Linked DNA regions of Homo sapiens: regions 1 and 2 are each linked to region 3. Evidence: fine-mapped expression QTL. A gene starts in region 3. Each other region holds a variant in brackets. All regions are shown on one strand. Distances are between the middles of the regions.

The links. PIP is the estimated chance that this variant, and not a neighbour inherited with it, causes the effect.
Region 1: its variant is fine-mapped to the expression of ACACB in whole blood (INTERVAL, PIP above 0.99).
Region 2: its variant is fine-mapped to the expression of ACACB in sigmoid colon (GTEx, PIP above 0.99).

The regions. Positions count from the first base shown.
Region 1 is chr12:109,149,787-109,156,611 of GRCh38, forward strand. All of the region lies in intron 2 of ACACB (acetyl-CoA carboxylase beta), which reads left to right. Among named protein-coding and RNA genes, the nearest start is that of ACACB, 37 kb to the left of the region's middle. RefSeq lists a silencer at 4,709-4,868. The variant C/T (reference allele first, on the strand shown) is at 4,090.
Region 2 is chr12:109,238,017-109,244,841 of GRCh38, forward strand. ACACB (acetyl-CoA carboxylase beta) reads left to right here. Exons shown (of 53, transcript NM_001093.4): 35 at 1,814-1,969; 36 at 3,062-3,265; 37 at 4,421-4,576. Among named protein-coding and RNA genes, the nearest start is that of FOXN4, 68 kb to the right of the region's middle. RefSeq lists enhancers at 1,394-1,895, 1,896-2,395. The variant T/A (reference allele first, on the strand shown) is at 4,182.
Region 3 is chr12:109,113,706-109,120,530 of GRCh38, forward strand. ACACB (acetyl-CoA carboxylase beta) reads left to right here and starts at 2,882. Exons shown (of 53, transcript NM_001093.4): 1 at 2,882-2,999. LOC105369974 (a long non-coding RNA gene) reads right to left here. Exons shown (of 3, transcript XR_945332.3): 3 at 4,949-5,079.

The DNA of each region.
Region 1 (6,825 bases), 36 kb after region 3:
AGATGGTGAGATACAGCCTCTGTCCTTAGGGAGACCAGGGCAAGGGGTCTGAGAGCCCACAGGCCAGGGCATTCCCCATCATTTTTACAGAGAGAGCTGTGGAATAGTTAAGAGCACAACACGCTGGTGGCTGAGGCTGGGGGCTGGTGTGCTGGCTTCTCCACCTAGCCATCATGTGACTTGGGGCCAAGTTCTGTGATTTTCTGTGCCTCAGTTTCCTCTGAAATGAAGTCATCGTGTTACCTCCCTCACAGGGTTGGGATCAGGCTTCATTGAGTTGCTGTAAGTACAGCACTCGAAGCAGCACCCATGGTGCGATCATGGTCATTAGATCCAGTGCACGGCATAAGAGCCCAGGACCCACAATCAGGTCTGGATTCAGACCTCTCCTGTTACCTGTCTGAGCTGCAATTTCCTGCTCTGTTGAGGCAGGATAATACTAGTGCCTACTTTAGGAGATTGTTGAGATCGAGTGGGAGCAAGTGCTGGGGGTGGACGGCCCAGAGGTGGTTCAGTAGCCATTAGTTGGGTGGGCTTCTTCCAAAGTTCTTGCCTGTGCGCATGGTTATTCCCAAGCCCTGGCCGGGCTTACATCTTAAAGGTGTAGCAACCTGTGTCCACGGAGGAGGAAGAGGATTGAAAAGGCAGGTGAAGTGTCCCGATAAAAGGATAAAGTCCAAAACAGCAGATGGGTGCTGAAGTGTTCCTTCCCGCCACCATTTACGACCATGTTGGGATCACTGAGGTAAGAACAGTTTAGCAAGGCAGACCTTGGATCCCAGGAAGGCAAATGAGGCTCTGTGGGGTCTGGACATACAGAGGGGGCCCTGCAGGCAAAGGTAGGTGAAGGAATACCAGGAAAGGGAGCTGACACCAGGGACCTGGCATCGCCCCCACTTTCCCAGATAGCAGACTGGGTGGGCTTGCAGTGCAGCCTCCCAGCTGCTTGTTCGTCATCCCAGCCCACATCTCTTATCGGCTCCAAGCAAGGAACAGGTCAGGAAACTAAATTGTCTATGCATATTTTTATGCGCCCCTGAGTGAAATGCCAAGGATCTTCCTGTAATGTTTAATTTATTCATTTATTGACTTAGGAAGGGGCTGGGAGAAACTCTCTTTTCAAGTCTCTTTAGCTCCTAAAATGTTTACTTTTTCTTTTTCTTTTTCTTTTTTTCTTTTCTTTTCTTTTTTCTTTCTTTTTTTTTTTTTTGAGACGGAGTCTCGCTCTGTAGCTCAGGCTGGAGTGCAGTGGCACAATTTCAGCTCACTGCAACCTCTACCGCCCGGGTCCCGGTTCAAGCAATTCTCCTGCCTCAGCCTCCCGAGTAGCTGGGATTACAGGCATGCACCACCATGCCCAGCTAATTTTTGTATTTTTAATAGAGACAGGGTTTCACCATGTTGTCCAGGCTGGTCTTGAACTCCTGACCTCATGATCTGCCCTCCTTGGCCTCCCAAAGTGCTGGGATTACAGGTGTGAGCCACTGCGCCCGGCCTCCTAAAATGTTTTCTAGGAGCTTGGGGGAAAGAGGATCCCTGTCTTTGAGTTGTTCTTGTATTAAGTTAATACAAGGTACAGAGCAACTAACCATTCATACATTCCCCTCCCCCTTAAGCATCATTGCCCTATTTTAGAAAAATTATTCACTTCTGCTCTATACTTAATGTAACACAGTCCCCCCCACCCCATATATTGAAAGAGATTATTTCATTTTGCTTTTCTGCAAAAATGAAGGCAAATTGTATGTGGATAATTTTATAGTTGAGGAAGTGGAGAGACGGGATTTACTTAAGGTCATCCGTGAGGGGAAGGGTAAGTTCAAGCCCATGGATGGCACAGTCTTTCTACCACGCTGCTGGCCACATGCATGCGGATTTTCTTGTTGATTTTGTGTGTGTATTGTTCATTGACCTGGGTTTTCCCTCTGCAATACCAGTAAGTAAAATTGAGCTTCTAGTAAGTCTGAGAGGAAGGGCTTAATGCATGAGACAGCAACTACCACCATGCTTGAACTGTTTCATCAAAAAGCACAACAATGGATGTTTGTATAAAGGTGGTGTTGTGCTTGGAGGTGGATATTAGGTTGGTGCAAAAGTAATCGTGGTTTTTGCAATCCCTTTTAATGGCAGAAACTGCAATTAGTTTTGCACCGACTGAATATTATTCATTTCTTTCCGTCTTCTATTCCCTAATAATGCAATTAGAGAAAAATGCAAGGTCATGATCACTGTGATGAAATGATGAGCCCACCCATCTAAATGAAATCCCTTATTTGAGACCCTGGGTCATAGTGAGATGTGTGAGGCTGTCTTTCAGGCTGTATTAGCAGAGAAGTGAGAATATCTATACAGTGTTTAAGTAGTGTTGGGGTTTTTGCAATAGAGAATAAAAATCTAGAGCAATACAAGTATGCTGGCAAGCAGTTCTCTTCTGCATGATCCTAACTGACTTTGGTAGGGTTGGGGTATTTTGAAATATCTTCATTTCTTGATTTTCATTGCTTTCCCTATTTTGAGGTGGTTACATTTACACTGGGGATATTTGGGGGATGAATACTTGTTGGTTTTGGTTTGAATCTCTAAAAATCAGGATACAGTGGGTTACTTTTTTGGAGGAGGTGAAGACAAGGCTGTGAACACCTTCCCAGAAACTTGAAGAACTGAGAATTTTGTTTATCTGTTTTTTTTCTTAAACCTGTTGTTGAAATGTTATTTAATATATGGTCAGGGCATAGCTATCCACTGCTGTCAGGCATGGCTGCTTAAACAGGGGCCCAGGGTGTTTATGTTGTGGCCAAGTACTTGGCACCCCCGGGAAGTGTGGCCCTGCCTGTGCCTTTTCTTTCTTTCTTTCTTTTTTTTTTTTTTTTTTTTTTTTTGAGAAAGGGTCTTGCTCTATTCCCCAGGCTGGAGTGTAGCGAGATCATGGCTCACTGCAGCCTCAGCTACCTGGGCTCAGGTAATCTTCCCGCCTCAGCCTCCTGAGTAGCTGGAATTACAGGTATGCACCACCACGCTGGCTAATTTTCATATTTTTAGTAGAGATGGGGTTTCACTATGTTGGTCAGGTTGGTCTTGAACTGCTGGCCTCAAGTGATCTGCCTGCCTCGGCCTCCCAAAGTGCTGGGATTACAGGTGTGAGCCACTGCACGTGGCCTTCCTGTGAAGTGAATTTTTAATTGTATTTTAAAATTTGTTTTCATGTTTTTGTTTGTTTTGAGACAGAGTCTTGCAATGTTGCCCAGGCTGGAATGCAGTGGCCTGATCTCGGCTCACTTAAACCTCTGCCTCGTGGGTTCAAGTGATTCTCCTGCCTCAGCCTCTGGAGTAGCTGGGACTTCAGGCCACCCCGCCACCACACCCAGCTAATTTTTGTAGTTTTAGTAGAGACGAAATTTCACCATGTTGGCCAGGCTGGTCTTGAACTCCTGACCTCAAGTGATCTGCCCACCTCGGCCCCCCAAAGTGCTGGGATTACAGGCATGAGCCACCATGCCTGGCCTGTTTTCATGATTCTGATACATTATATTTTTACACATTTATAGGATACATGTAAAATTTTGTTACATGCATAGAATGCATAATGATTGTAGGGACCAAGGGAATATCTTCTGCTTTGCCCTCTGAAGTTTCGCTGAAAAATTAACTTGTAAAAAGGCAGATTAGTTGGAGAAAAGACACACAAATTTAATTAATGTGTACACTGGGAGAACCGCAGAGTGATTACCCAGAAGGGAATTTACTGGCCAGCATTTACATTATTTTTGGTTGGTTTGTTGGCTATGAAAGTAGGCTACCTTTATTATTACTGCGATGACTTCTAGGTAGTGTTTTGGTTCTTTGCATTTATTACATTACTTGAAGAAGCATTCATTCATTTATTTTTGATTTTTTGAGATGGAGTCTCACTCTGTCACTCAGGCTGGAATGCAGTACCGCCATCTGGGCTCACTTCAACCTCCGCCTCTCGGGTTTTAGTGATTCTCTCTCCTCAGTCTCTCGAGTAGCTGGGACTACAGGTGTGCACCACCATGCCCGGCTAATTTTTGTATTATTAGTAGAGACAGGGTGTCACCATGTTGGCCAGGC[C/T]GGCCTCAAACTCCTGACCTCAAGCGCCTGCCTCAGCCTCCCAAAGTGCTGGTATTACAGGCATGAGCTACCAGGCCCGGCCTCATTCGTTTATTCTAACTGGAATCGGTTTGTCTGAGTTCAAGACCCTGGGCTCTGGCACTTCAGATAACATGCATCTCTGGGCCCCAGTTTCCTTATCTGTATTATAGGGATAAAAACAATAAGATTGCCACGAGGATTAAGTGACACAGAGGAACAAAGGAGCACTTAGTAAATGTTAGTCTTACCAGAAGTTTATTTCGGATCACCGGGCTGCTGGGGTCCTCCCTGTCCTGGAGGCACTCGCTTCAGTAGCGGACCCAGGTGGTGCAAAGTGCGTGCTAGAAGCACACTGGGTGATTGCGCAGCCACCTGTCCCAGGGAGTGGAGGTGAAAAGATGAGAGAAACCAGGACTTTGGGAAATAAAAGTCGACTTGACAACAGGGACTTTTAACGGGCACAGTGGCGACCTCTGACTCACATTTTAAATTTCCCATATTTTCCACCGCTTCCCTATCGTGTGTGTATTCAAGCATATCAATTGCTGCCAATATGTAGGGGTGTCCCATATTGGGGAGCAAAGCAGAAGAGAGGCTTTAAAAATATATATCTCCGCAGCTCATTTCGGCTGCCGAAGCTCAGCGGCGGGTCGGAGGTAGGCCGGCCCGGGGGCGGGGCTCCGTCCGGAAGGCGGGGCCCTCCTGGGGCGGGGTCGGTGTGGGGGCGGGGCCTGGGTGGGGCCTAGGCGGGCGCGATGGCCCGGGACTCTGGCGCGCAGGGTGCATTTCGGGATGGAGCAAGCGCAGCGCGAAGTTGGGCGCCCGCCGGCTGCAGCAGAACCCCGCCCGCGGCGCTCTAGGACTGCATCTCGGCCTCCGGGTCGCGACCTGGCTGTCCTGCTGGGTCCCGGGCCTCGGGTCGGCTTCAGGCGGTTAAGGGGTGCATGCTCTGCACCCCTGCGGGAGCCCGGTGGGATTGGCCTGCGGGGTGGTCAACATGAGTCCTGCCAAGTGCAAGATCTGTTTCCCTGATCGCGAAGTAAAGTAAGTAAGCCTGCAATTGTAATGACCATGATCTTTTACAAACTTACGCAGTCTTCCTTCCCCTTGAAGTCAAGCTGTGTGTCCTCTTAGCACCGCCCCCTTTACCCCCACCCCCATCCAAAGAAACACGGGCTTGAGTTGGCTGCTGGGGAGATGATGCCCGCCTTGGAAACTCTAGCTGGCCTTGGCGGGAGGGGAGGAAGGAGGCTGGACGTTGGGGGTGACGTTGCTTGGAGGAGGTCGCTTCGGAGCACACAGGTGCCTAAAGATCAGCCCTTGCGCAGGGGCACGCCTTCCCCGCTTTCTCTCCTTCGCCTCCAGAAGCTGATGGTTGTGGAAGGCAGGTCTCTTTTGAAGCTGAAGCCTGGGCAAATCGACGTGAACTTGAGCAGGCTCTCATTGAGGGTCATTTTCTGAGCAGATGAGCGTAGGCATCTCAGTGCCTGAGTGCTTTGTAGCTCTACCTACTTGGTTTTGTTTCTTTCCTTTTTTGTCCTCATTTTATTGCACTTAAAAAGAATTACCAAATTGATGGTGTGTCTGTTGTTGACAATTCAGAAAATTATAGATAAGCAAAAAAGAGGAACAAAAATCACCCATAATTCCACCCCTGTGATGTTTGTTAACAGTTGTATATTCTTCAGCTTTTTTTTTTTTCCGGTGCAGATATGTTTTAATTTATAAACTTGAATCATGCAGAACGTTCTGTAACTCACTTTTTCATTCAACATTAAGTATTTTTCTACCACTGGGCTTGGCAAACTATGACCCACTGCCTGTTTTGGGATGGCCTGCAAGCAGAGAATGGTTTTTTCATGTTTAAGTGATTGAAAAAAAAATCAAAAGAAGATTGTTTTGTGACACGTGAAAATTACATGAAATTCAAATTTCAGTGTCTACGAAAAAAGTTTTATTGGACTGCAGCCTGCTCATCGATTTATGATTTATGCCTAGTTCATGGCTGCTTTTGTGCCTCACTGGAGGATTTGAGTGGTGGGACAGAGACTGACCAGATCTAAAGTACTTACTGCCTGACCCTTGACAGACAATGTTTGCCAATCCCTGCCTACAACATGCTTTTACTGGATTCATAGTGTTCCTTTAAATGGGTGCACCTTAAAATGTATGAATAATCCTCGCCAGGCAGGGTGGTGCAAGCCTGTAGTCCCAAATACTCAGGAGGCTGAGGAGGGAGGATGCTTTTGCCCAGGAGTTGGAGGCTGCAGTGTGCTATGATCGTTCCTGTGAACAGCCACTGCACTCTAGCCTGGGCAACATAGCAAGACCCCATCTCTGAAAAAAAATGTGCCCAGGTGTGGTGGCTCATGCCTGTAATCCTAGCGCTTTGGGAGGCCAAGGCAGGAGAACTGCTTGAACTCGGGAGTTCGAGACCAGCTTGGGCAACATAGTGAGACCCCCATCTCTACTTAAAAAAAAATTAGCTGAGGATGGTGATGCATGCCTGGAGTTTCAGCTACTGGAAAGACTAAGGGAAGAGGATTGCTTGAGCCTGGGAGATCGAGGCTGTAGTGAGCAATGGTTGTGCTATTGCACTCCAGCCTGGGCAACAGAGCAAGACCCTGTCTCTTAAAAAAAAAGTATAAGTAATCCCCTATAAGTAGCGGATATTCAGGCTGTTTCTCTCTGTTTTTTTTTTTTTTTTTGGGGGGG
Region 2 (6,825 bases), 120 kb after region 3:
AAAAAAAAAAAGAAAAAAAGAAACAGAAGTAATCCATGATTATATTGTGAAAATTTTAAATAAGACTGAAAACGATTTTTAAGAACCTAGCGCAAGGACCGAGAATCCTGTCACTGAGGGGCCAGCTTAGTTGTTGACTGTTTCTAGACACAATTCCGTCCCTGAAACCTAGAGTTGTAGGCATAAGTTGCAGATAAGAGCTGAGAGTGGACAGATCATTTGAATATATTATTCTTTAATTGGTCAGTCACTTGTGGACCTCTTTCATTGTTAATAAAGAGTGGTCCACCACATATTATTTCCTTGCATGGATGTACCGTGTATAATTTTTTTTTTTTTTTTACTAATCCCCTATTGATGGAAACATATATATATTATTATATATATAATTATATATAATAATATATATAATATATTATATAATATAACATATAATATACATAATATAATATATAATATGTTATATAACATTATATATACATAATATAATACATATTATATGTATTTATATAAATATATATTTATATAAATGTATATATAATTATTATATATATATATTTTTTTGGAGATGGAGTTTTGCTCTTGTTGCCCAGGCTGGAGTGCAATGGCACAATCTCAGTTCACTGCAACCTCCGCACCCCCGGGTTCAAACAATTCTCCTGCCTCAGCCTTCTGAGTAGCTAGGACTACAGGCACACCCCACCATGCCCAGCTAATTTTGTATTTTTAGTAGAGATGGGGTTTCTCCATGTTGGTCAGGCTGGTCTGAAACTGCCGACCTCAGGTGATCTGCCCACTTCGGCCTCCCAAAGTGCTGGGATTACAGGCGTGAGCCACCACGCCTGGCCCTATTGATGGATATTAAGCTAACTGCAGTTTTTTTGCTACCTGTCAGCTAGATGTTTTATTTTTATTTTGATACAGAGATTTGCTCTTGTCACCCAGGCTGGAGTGCAGTGGCGTGATCTTGGCTCACTACCACCTCTGCCTCCCGGGTTCAAGCGATTCTCCTGCGTCAGCTTCCTAAGTAGCTGGGATTATAGGCGCCCACCACCATGCCCAGCTAATTTTTGTATTTTTAGTAGAGACGGAGTTTCACCATGTTGGCCAGGCTGGTCTCGAACTCCTGACAACTGATCCACCCATCTCGGCCTCCCAAAGTGCTGGGATTATAGGCGTGAGCCACTGTGCCTGGCCAAGCCGTTTTAATAGGTTTTATTATTGTTGAGGTATGGTGAGGCCAACAGATAAGGAGACAACTGCCATCAAAAAGACAGTTTATTACTCATAGTTCCCAAGAAGAAGGGGTTTTCCCTGCCATGGGGCCACATGGGGAGGCTCTGGGGTTGGTCAGGCAGCAGAGGGACAGAGGGGAAGACATGGAAGACGTGGACGAGAGCCTTGATTGTGGTTTCCTGGAGAAGAAAAAAGTGAGGCTGAGTAAACAGGTTTAGGATTGGCTGTGAATCATCTCAGCAGACCCTGGCATATAGAAGCTGTCTCTGGTTCTCAGGAATCTGGCCCTGGGTGATTAGAGCAGGTGGTTTGTGTCCCCAGGTATGATCCAGGGTCAGCAAGGCCCCAGGTGTCAAAGTGTCAGAATGCAGAAAATAGGACACATGTCAATACACTCAACAGCTTTGCAGTCCCTTCGCCTCTGAGAGGCAGGGCTCTGCTGTTCTTGCCTGGCACACTTTTTGGAGGAGGGGAATGTTTTCCTCCTGTCTCTGCCTCTTTGGGGCTGAGTTTCCAGCCAGCTGGGAGTAGGCCTGCACCCCTGGCCTGAGCAGCTGCCCCTCCCACTCTTTGGCAGGAAGCCTCCTTCGAATACCTGCAGAACGAGGGTGAGCGGCTGCTCCTGGAGGCCATGGACGAGCTGGAGGTGGCGTTCAATAACACCAGCGTGCGCACCGACTGCAACCACATCTTCCTCAACTTCGTGCCCACTGTCATCATGGACCCCTTCAAGGTCTCGCCTTTGCAGGGGGGCTCTCACCGGGCTCTGGGTTCACCCTCTGAGCCATGCTGCTTTGGGGTATTGTCTCTTGCCACTCAAGACCTGGGTTCCAGGATGAAACCATGCGTATCTGAGCCTCAGTTGCTGCGGGAGGAGAGCAAACCTTCTGCCATTCAATTCTAGAGCTATGTTTTAGCCATGCCCTGCACGGGAATGCTTTACTTTAAGGATGACAAGCATGCTCAAAATGTCTTTCAAAACAAAATTTTGTCCTTTCCCTGGTTCCAGGCTGCGCTGGGGACTGCATGTGGGTGGGGAGAGACGTGAGACCGTGAGGTCTGTGGCTGAATGTTCCCTGTCAGGTGGCTCTTCACGAGCAGACAGACTTTTATGGTGGTGATTCTGGAATGAAAGAAGCCCCACTTGTAATCCCAGTACTTTGGGAGGCTGAGGTGGGTAGATTGCTTGAGCCCAGGAATTTGAGACAAGCCTGGGCAACATGGAGAGACCCTATCTCTACTAAAAATTTTAAAAATTAAAAAATAAAATATTAAGATTATTAATCAAATTAATATTAATATCGATATATTAATATTATTAAAATATATAAATGTATTTTATTTTATTATTTAATAATATATATTATTAAAAATAATTAATACAATAGTATTATTAAAAAGAGAAGTCCTGATACATCCGTTTGGTATCTGGGGGATTCAGGGGACCCATGTGGAGGCTCTGGCCTCACTAGTTCAGGTAGTTCCAGAAGGAAGCAGTGCAATGGCTTGAGTCAAAGGCATGTAAAGATAGTATAACATAGCAGTACTAGTTCAGTCACTTATCAGCCTCAGTTTCCTTATCTGTCAGTGAGGGATTAGAAAAGCTCGCCTCTCTTGAGTACTTACGAAGGCAAAATGAGGTAGAGTTTTAAATGCTTAGCAAGAGCCGTTGCTTGTTATTAGTTAATACTTTTTGTTGGATACACACTATGTCCCAGGCGTTTTTGCAGTCAGTATATCTCATCCTCTTATTAGTATCAGTGCTATTGCAAATGTCCTTGGGATGTCTTGGCCCTGAAACTGGAATTGCTGTGTTTTGGGGCAGATCGAGGAGTCCGTGCGCTACATGGTTATGCGCTACGGCAGCCGGCTGTGGAAACTCCGTGTGCTACAGGCTGAGGTCAAGATCAACATCCGCCAGACCACCACCGGCAGTGCCGTTCCCATCCGCCTGTTCATCACCAATGAGTCGGGCTACTACCTGGACATCAGCCTCTACAAAGAAGTGACTGACTCCAGATCTGGAAATGTAAGGCTGGCCCGCGCCGTGGGGGTCTAAGTCAAAGCAGAAGCAGGCTGCTTGGGCCATCAATTTGTAGATTAAGATGGCATTTGGAGGCGGTCTTGCCTTGCTCTCCCATGTCATTCTGGGTTGGGGTAGCCCCCTCTGAGTGTTATGTTAAATGTGTTAGCCTTTGAATCTTGGTTTTTCACTCACCTAAAAAGGAGAGTGAATCTCCAAGTTTAATCCATTCTGTGGCCATGTTGGATTTTTGATAGAGACAAGGTGTCACCATATTGGCCAGGCTGGTCTCGAATTCCTGACTTCAAGTGATCTGCCCGCCTCGACCTCCAAAGTGCTGGGATTATAGGCGTGAGCCACCACGCCTGGCCATATGGCCATATTTGGGATAAGTTGTGCACTACTGTGGTTGACTGTAATGCAGTCCTCAGATTGGTTCACTTAGGGAAATACTTTCCCAACCATGTTCTAGGACAGACTTTTGTAAAGTGAATTAAATGTTCTTTTGACTGCCATTTAAATTCCTATGTGTGTACATAAAAATATACATATATATACACGCCATTTTTTAAAGAGATATTGCCTAGACTGGGCCTGAACTCCTGGGTTCAAGCAATCTTCTGGCCTCAGCCTCCCAAGTAGCTGGGACTACAGGCACATGCCATTGTGCCTGGTCTATGCACTTTTTATTTTGGAGTAATTGAAGACTGAAGACTCTCAAGCAGTTGCAAAATTAGTACAGAAGAAAAAAAATAGTGCAGAGGATTTTCACCCAGTTTCCCCCAATGGTAATGTTGATTGAACTTCACCATTGCACATCATTAAAACAGGAAATTGACATTGGCACAGGACTGTTCGCACCAACACTGACCACGTTCGGATTTCACCAGCGTTTCCATGCATGCCTGTTGTTGGGAGTGTG[T/A]GATGCCTTGATCACTGTATTTTTGGAACTGCATTCCACAGCCCCTGTTGTCCCTTCTTGTTCTGGCCCTCCACAGTGGTGAAGAAGGGAGTTTTACGTAGCCCAGGCACTCACTTTGTCATGCCATGTGACATGCTTTGCTTCCCCCACCTGCATTTTCATTGAGGACTGGGCAGAAATAAATTGGGGGAGATGTGTGATTCTCTCTCACTCTCTGTTTTCCCTCCTTTCTGGTCCAGATCATGTTTCACTCCTTCGGCAACAAGCAAGGGCCCCAGCACGGGATGCTGATCAATACTCCCTACGTCACCAAGGATCTGCTCCAGGCCAAGCGATTCCAGGCCCAGACCCTGGGAACCACCTACATCTATGACTTCCCGGAAATGTTCAGGCAGGCAAGTCCGGCGGCTCAGACGCGGTACCCCCTGGGTCCTCCCAGCAGACTCCACCAGAACCAAAGCCCATCCTTAATTCTCCTTCTAAAGACCTAGTCTAAAGGACAAGGTCTTGCCAGGTGCGGTGGCTCACGCCTATAATCCCAGCACTTCGGGAGGCCGAGGAGGGAGGATTGCTTGAGCCCAGGAGTTGAAGAACCCCATCTCTACAAAATATACAAAAATTAACCGGGCGTGGTGGCGCATGCCTGTAGTCCCAGCTACTTGAAGGCTGAGGCAGGAAGGATCACCTGAGCCTGGGAGGTCGAGGCTGCAGTGAGCCATGATGTCACCACTGCACTCCAGGCTGGGTGACCGAGTGAGACCCCGTCTTCAAAAAAAAAGAACAAGGTCTGCATTGAAGAAAAAGAAATGAATGTGTTGAGAACGACTTCATAGTATTTTTCTCCAAATAAGACTAATTTATCCCAATGATAAAAGTCATAGGATATAGAAACTTCAGAAAATAAAGGAGGTTGGAACAAAGAAAAAATAATTCCTAGTCCCACACTCTGATGACAAATTGCTTAACATTTTGATGTGTTTCCTTCTGGTCTTTTTAATGGTCATTTATTAAGTACCTGCTACTTACCAGGCACCATTCGAAGTCTAGACAGCTGTGGGAAAGAGGAGGGGGTCACTGCCTTGAGTAATTTTTAGTCTACTCTTAAAAAATAATGTTTTGGGTTGGGCACAGTGGCTCACGCCTGTAATCCCAGCACTTTGGGAGGCTGAGGCAGGTGGATCATTTGAGGTCAGGAGTTTAAGACCAGCCTGGCCAACATGGTGAAACCCCATCTCTACTAAAAATACGAAAATTAACCAGGCGTAGTGGCAGGCACCTGTAGTCCCAGCTACTCGGGAGGCTGAGGCAGGAGAATTGCTTGAACCCGGGAGGTGGAGGCTGCAGTGAGCTGAGATGGCCCCACTGCACTCTAGCCCTGGTGACAGAGCGAGACTCTGTCTCAAAAACAAAAACAAAAACAAAAAAATAATGTTTTATTATGTTTTTCTGATGATTAAAGTATACATAGGAAACTATGGAAAGGTAAGAATAAGGAAGTAAAATTCTATTCATATGTAATTTTCCCACCATCAATGCCTGAAAGAACATTTGGGTGCATTTTCTTCAAGTATTTTTTATGCCTTTATATGTTTATGCCCTAGGGGCTTTAAAGGAGCCTGAACCACTGACATTGGTGATGTGAATGTCTCTTCATTTTCCAGGATTGCTTTGGAATGACATTATATATATATATATATATTTATTTATTTATTTATTATACTTTAAGTTCTAGGGTACATGTGCACAATGTGCAGGTTTGTTACATATGTATACATGTGCCATGTTGGTATGGGATCTAATTAAACTAAAGAGCTTCTGCACAGCAAAAGAAACTACCATTAGAGTGAACAGGCAGCCTACAGAATGGGAGAAAATTTTTGCAATCTACTCATCTGACAAAGGGCTAATATCCAGAATCTACAAAGAACGCAAACAAATTTACAAGAAAAACAACAACCCCATCAACAAGTGAATGACGTTCATGAAACCAAGGTCAAGGACCTTCCAGTGTAGGCAGGAAGCATCTGTTCCTACCTCTGCCTATGCCTCATGCATAGAGGATATGAAAGAGTAGGAAAAGCTGCTCTTTAGAGTAACTCGGGCCTCAGCTCGAATGCTGGATCTGTCCCCTTGCTTCCTGCTGTCCCTAGCCAAGTTCCTTCACCTCTCTGGGCCTCAGTTTCCTCTTCTGTAAAATAAGAATAATAACAGTACCTACCAAAAGTTGTTGGAAAAGTGTATGTATTCAGTGGGCGCTTAATAAGTGGAAACTTATGATTAAGAATGTCATTGTCTGTATCCTTTTGCCTTTGACCTCAAGAGCTATAAGGGAAGAAACATGACTGAACCAGAAGCAAATCCATCGTCTCTTTTTTAGATAAATCCATTGTCTCTTTTTTACAGGCATGAGCCACCATGCCTGGCTAATTTTTTTATTTATAGTGGAGACAGGGTTTCACTATGTTGGCCAGGCTGGTCTCAAACTCCCGGCCTCAGGTGATCTGCCTGCCTCAGCCTCCCGAAGTGTTTGGATTACAGGCATGAGCCACCACACCCAGCTGTCTGTCTGTCTGTCTGCCTCTATATCTATATCTATGTCTATATCTATCTATTTATCTATCTATCTATCGAGAGAATGGAAAAC
Region 3 (6,825 bases):
TGTTTGGTGGAGAAGCAAACTTTTTGGCGTATGCGTGTGGTGTTGGCTTTTCATCCTTGCCAAACCTTCAAGATTTGCAAGGAAAAACAGGTTGCAGGGAGGTGCTCTGGGTTACTTTGAAAAGACCTCACATGCTGACTTGTGCTGACTCAAGCTGAGGAAAGCTAGAACATTCCTCTGCTGGAGATGGCCTCCTTGTTTAGAGTCCTTCTGACACTGTAATTTGGGTCTGACAACAGGAAGTTCCTTTGTAGTTTAAGTCAATGGGAACCAATTTTTTTTTCTTTTTTTTGCGATAGAGTCTCACTCTGTTTCTTAAGATGGAGTACAGTGACTCAGTCATGGCTCACTGCAGCCTCAACTTCCTGGGTTCAGGTGATCCTCCTGCCTCAGCCTCCTGAGCAGCTGGGACCACTGGTATGCACCACCATACCTGGCTAAGTTTTTAATAGAAATGGGGTCTTGCTAAGTTGCCCAGGCTAGGGAACCAGTTTTTAAGTTTTTGAAATATGCTTGGAAATATAAATATTGGTGAGCGGAGCAGACCAGGAGATCAATAATTTATGTTCTCTGCTTGTTAGTTGTGTATATAGCATGTTCTTTTGTCTCTCTTAATGATGTTTGGGGTGAGGGTGTGGGAGAGGAAGGTAGGGAGCCTTCCAACAAGAAGCTAGTGCTCCTCCAGCCTAGAGAAGCTAAAACATGCAAAGCCAGACCCCATCCCTGGAAATTCTGATTTAATTGGTGGGGGAAGGCATGTGAATTCTCACAGAGGGTCCGGTTTGCAGCAGGACTGGTGATTTCTTTCCAGGTGCCTTGTTTTGTTAGACCATGTGGTCACTTAATAATTTTTTTTGGGCCAGGTACAGTGGCTCATACCTGTAATCCCAGTGCTTTAGGAGGCAAGGCAAGAAGATCGCTTTAGGCCAGGAGTTCAAGACCAACTTGGGCAACATAATGAGACCTTGTCTTTAAAAAAAAAAAATTTTTTTTTTTTTAATTAGCCAGGGGTGGTGTGTGCCTGTAGTTCTAGCTACTTGGGAAGCTGAGGCAGGAGGATCATTTGAGCCCAGGAGTTCGAGGCTGCAGTGAGCTATGATCATGCCACTGCACTCCATCCAGCCTGGGCAACAGAGCAAGATCCTATTTCTAAAACAAAACAAAACAAAACAAAAAATGTAACTTGATACCTGTGACTTTCTGAAACTAACAGCTGTTTGAAGAAATATATTTCTATTACCGTTCTTGTGTTTGATGGAAAGAGTTTATGAATAACTTTGGTTTCAAGCCTTCCAATTATATTCTGGAAAATACCTGTGTCTTAAAGAGATAGTGTCTAGGGAGAACTGAATCACTGCAGAGTTCTTCACCTGTATGTGTGGGTATGTCTAGTCTTTTTGCAAGTAATGAATTTCATTAGAAAGATATTAAGTGCTTGTCATGAGCAAGCCCCTGTGCCAGAAACTCAATATAAATCATTTCATTTTCTCACCCATATGGTGAAGTAGTTGATGAGGACACTGAAGCTCAGCCATTTGCTCAAAGTCATGGCTAATGGAGGGAGGATTCAAACCCACATCAGCTTGATTTCAAAGCCTAATAGTCCTGCCACTGTCAACACCCTGCCTAGATCATGATTATTTGGAATCACTGGGAAAGAATTTTTTTTTCATGAAGTTAGAAGCCTAAGAATTTTTTTCAATGGAATTTTATAAAAATGTCCTTGAATCACAGATGGCTCTCCCTGGAAACATAGGTTTGTTTGAGAGTCACCTCTTTTATTGTCTTAATAAATAGACTAAGAGCCATCACAAGGGCTACTGTGGCTAGAGAACATATGACTCGGGCCGGGCATTGTGCAGGCATTTGACCTGCATTCCTTCACCCCGGTTCCTGTAACATGTACCTGGTGCTGTGGGGTTACAGCTGATAATGCTGAGGTTTCCAGAGCACATGCTTCCAAGTCCAGTGGAGAAAATCCCAAGAAGTCCAATATTCAATGACTGTTCCTTATTGCAAAATAAGCCCAGAAACAAAGTAGCTGTGAACAGGCTGCACCAGCCCCAGCAGCAATTTCCATTTAAACCATTTTGCACAGATCCCGTGCTCAGCGCTCTCGCCAGTTTCTCCACTTGCTGTTTAGTAAGGCCATCATTGTTGGCAGGAAGTGGGTTCCACCTTCCCTGTTGCCTGAGCACAATGTGCTCCTATGTGGTCTCCACTTTCCTGCTGCCTAGTTGGCTGGGCTTCTCCAGCTGGGCCTTGGAGGCGACCTTTGTCCCACATGCCAGCCCTCCCCACGTTGCAGAACACTATGTAACTGCAGCGTGTGCTGAATTTCCTCTTCTGTGCTCAACCCTAGCAAGAGCCAGTCAACCCTGAATGAGAATGTGGCAATGGAGCTGTTTTTTTCTTTTATCCCCAAGTCACAAGAAATTGGAAACATTCCATTAAGTGGCGTGATTTGAGAGGGTTTCGCCAAATCTTTTCAGGGGAGAGAAGCCAGGTGACCTGATAGCGATCACCTTCCCATTCACGGTTTTCAATGGGGGCTTGTTTCTCAAATGACCAACACCTGTAGGCAGTTAATTTTCAGCATGTCACAGGAGGGCCCAGATGACTTTCTGCCTACTGCTTACGACAACATGGACTTTAGATGCCTCATGGCTTCAACAGCTAAGAATTATGAAATAAAGCGAGTTATGGGATTAAAAGGCAGATAGCAGAACTCTCCCAGGAGTAGCCAGGGCTGCACAAGTGGTTTGACGTGGGATCTTTCTCATCTTTGCCCCGGGTTGTTGCTGCTTTGAAGGTTAAGTGCTCCAGGGATATTTTTAAACAGCAGGGGCTGATTAATCTAAAAGTGACATTTGCAGTCCCCAGAGTAAGCAGCTAGCAGGCTTAGATTCAGGCCCTCAGCAAACAAGGAACCTGGAAAATGTAACCCTGAATGCACGGTGGGGAGGACATGGCAAGAGAAAAGCGGCAGGAATAAAGTGGTAAGTCAGCTCGCCCCTCCCCGGGGTCCGGACCATTCTGCCAACGTCCAGGTAAATTCGAACCCAATGTATAGTGAGAGCAGACCCTGTCTGAAGGCATGCACTTGGGGTCCCCGGGGAAAAACGACTCCCGTCATGTTTGAAGGAAGCTAATCAGAAGAGCTCGAAATGTAACGCAGATGAAAGAGAAGGGCCTTTCTTTGCTTCTATAAATGGTGGTGTGGATCCCTGGACATGCTCCCATATAAGTTCCACAACGTTTTATAAACAATTCTGTTTTTTGCCTCCAAAGCTACTGTCTTAAGGAATAGTATTCTGTTTCTGTTTCCTCAAATGGTTGTTCTTTTTTTTTTTTTTTTTTTTTTTAAAGCAGACTAAGGCTGGGCACGGTGGCTCATGCCACCCAGCACCTTGGGAGGCAGAGGCAGGTGGATCACTTGAGGTCAGGAGTTCGAGACCAGCCTGGCCAACATGGCGAAACCCCATCTGTACTAAACACATAAAAATTAGCCAGATGTGGTGATGGGCACCTGTAATCCCAGCTACTTGGGAGGCTGAGGCAGGAGAATCGCTTGAACCCAGGAGGTGGGGGTTGCAGTGAGCTAAAATTGCGCCACTGCATTCCAGCCTGACTGACAGAGCAAGACTCTGTCTCAAAAAAAAAAAAAAAGAAAAGAAAAAGAAAAAAAGGAGACTAAGAGTAAAGCGTTTGTAGTGGTCCTATATCCTATATTTCTAGGAAGACATGACTTTCTTTCAATGTTGAAAAAATGCATTCCAAAATAATATGCAAGTTAAAAAGTCACTCAGCACCGTGCAAAAGTCTCCTTGCTGTTATTCCTGTCTAACCCTCCTCCTCCAGGTAGCCACTGTGCACATTTTGGTATAAACCCCCCAGACCTTTTATTCTGTACACTCACACTGTACACAACTCTCTCCCTCATGTCTATTGTGATTACTTTTATTTTTTAATATCAATGGGCATCCATATAGGTTGGGTGACCAACCATCCCACTTTGCCCAGGACCGGGGAATTCCCGGGACATGGGACTTGCAATTTAAAAACTGAAAGGTGAAGATATTATTATTATCATTATTATTTGAGATGGAGTGCTCACTGCAAGCTCCGCCTCCTGGGTTCACGCCATTCTCCTGCCTCAGCCTCCCAAGTAGCTGGGACTACAGGCACCCACTACCACGCCCGGCTAATTTTTTTTGTATTTTTAGTAGAGACAGGGTTTCACTGTGTTAGCCAGGATGGTCTCGATCTCCTGACCTCAAGTGATCCGCCCGCCTCGGCCTCCCAGAGTGCTGGGATTACAGGCATGAGCCACCGCGCCTGGCCAAAGATATCATTTTATAAATTGCATGTTTCTGCTAATAGTGACATGGAGTTCTTTACAAGATTTCTTTTTATGACTTCTCCAAGTTTTAAGTGGAAAGACCCAGCCAATCCTAATTCATGTGATTTAGAGATGAAAATATCTCTAATCTGTAACTTTCTTTCAGAAGCTCTTAAGAGTTTTATTTGCTCCTGCTCAGGTGTTGTGTAAACTCGCTCATACTTTCAACACCTTTAGGTCTGAGACAGAAATTTGAGTATTACATTACATGAGATACCCAGTCTTCATGGGGAAATAAACATTTTAATCTTTTGAAATGGAGGTTTCCTTGAAGTCTTATCCCAGTAGAAACTTTGACCTTGTTCTTTTTTTTTTTTTTTTTTTGAGACAGAGTCTCGTCCTGTCACCCAGGCTGGAGTGCGATGGCACAATCTCAGCTCACTGCAACCCCTGCCTCCCAGGTTCAAGCAATTCCTCAGTCTCAGTCTCCCGAGTAGCTGGGATTGCAGGCAAGCACTACCACGCCCAGCTAATTTTTGTATTTTTAGTAGAGATGGGGTTTTGCCATGTTGGCCAGGCTGGTCTCGAACTCCTGACCTCAAGTGATCTGCTCACCTTGGCCTCCCAAAGTGCTGGGATTACGGGCATGAGCCACTGCACCCGGCCTGGAATACCTTGTTCTCATGCTTCCTCTGAATTTGTGATTCAGTGACTTGTTACTTCAAAGTAGAGTTCACCTGTACCCAGGGAAACCAGGAAACAGAGTTAGAAATATTGCATTTGATCGGAAAAATGTATGCACATTTCACATCCTATCCTAATAGATCTCTCTGTTTGCAGTGATAATAGTAAATTTATGACCGTAGAGTAAGGTGATTTTCTAGGAAGATAGACCGTGTTCATTTATTCCAGGAATCCAGGGATCCTTGTATCAGAGAATCCAGGCTGGGCACAGCAGAGAAACCAAGGTATTGATTATTGGGTAGTTGGCATACCCCAGGTATGCCATAATAATTATGGGATCTCACATAATTTTGAGGACAATCCTAGGAAGGAGATTTTATTTATTCCATTCCACAGGCCAGGAAACCAAGGTTCAGAGAATTTCCATGATGGGCTCAGGCCAATCAGATAACAAATGGCAAAGCCTCCACCCAAGTCTGCTGTACTCCAGAAGTCCTGCTCTCTGGGCTCATACCTTAGCCACTCTGACCCTTGCTGGGGCCCCAGAAAACAACTACACATAGAAAAGGTCTCTTCAGGCCAGACACAGTGGCTCACGCCTGTAATCCCAGCACTTTGGGAGGCTGAGGAGCTAGATCACTTGAGGTCAGGAGTTTGAGACCAACCTGGCCAACATGGTGAAACCCTTTCTCTACTAAAAATACAAAAATTAGCTGGGTGTGGTGGCTAGTGCCTGTAAACCCAGCGACTTGGGAGGCTGAGGTAGGAGAATCACTTGAACACAGGAGGTGGAGCTTGCCGTGAACCGAGATGGTGCCACCGCACTCCAGCCTGGGCAACAGAGCAAGACTCTGTCTCAAAAAAAAAAAAAAAATGATTTTGAGACAGGGCTGGGTGGCTCACGCCTATAATCCCAGCACTTTGGGAGGCTGAGGCAGGCAGATCACTTGAGGTCAGGAGTTCAAGGCCAGCCTGACCAACATGGCAAAACCCTGTCTCTACTAAAAATACAAAAATTAGCCAGTTATGGTGGTGCGCCTGTAATCCCAGCTACCTGGGAGGCTGAGGCAGGAGAATCGCTTGAAACTGGGAACCAGACGTTGCAGCAAGCTGAGATCGCGCCACTGCACTCTAGCCTGGGCGACAGAGCGAGACTCCATCTCAGAAGAAAAAAAAAAAGGATTAAAGGATTTTCCACCACTCCTGTTGAACTAATTAAGCTCCATATTTTTAAATTAAATAATGAGTGAAGGTGATATCAGAGGACAACTTGAACACACTCTCCTTTCTATTTAGAAGCAAATCAGCTGCAGACTTCAATACTAGCTATTATAGAATAATCAGTTGTTGGACATGCCCCTCCCAACTGACCTAGAAGGCTTTCTCTGCTGTGTTATAAGGAAGGCTTCGGTCTTTTATTTCCATACTCCCCACAAAGTGAGGCTTTTGGAGCTCTTCTGATATGGAGAGCTGCCCATGCAAGGTGGAAACAGGCCTCCAGGGCCAATCAGTTTGGGAAACACCAGGCTGCCTGTGGTTTACAGCAGGACTTCTCAGAGCCTTTACTATGCTAAATGCAGTGGGACTCTCCAAGATGTGACATTGGGATTTGGCCCTAGAAATGTTATTTTTTGGCAAGGGTGGGGACCATCTTTCAGGATTGGTATTCATAGCCACCTCTTGCAAAACATGGAACCGTTTCATTCCATGCCTTCCTCATCTCCTTGCAGGATCCTGGGAGGCAGGACCATGGAGTGGATGAGGTTCACAGGCTCGAGCTCTTGAGCAGGGGGCAAGGG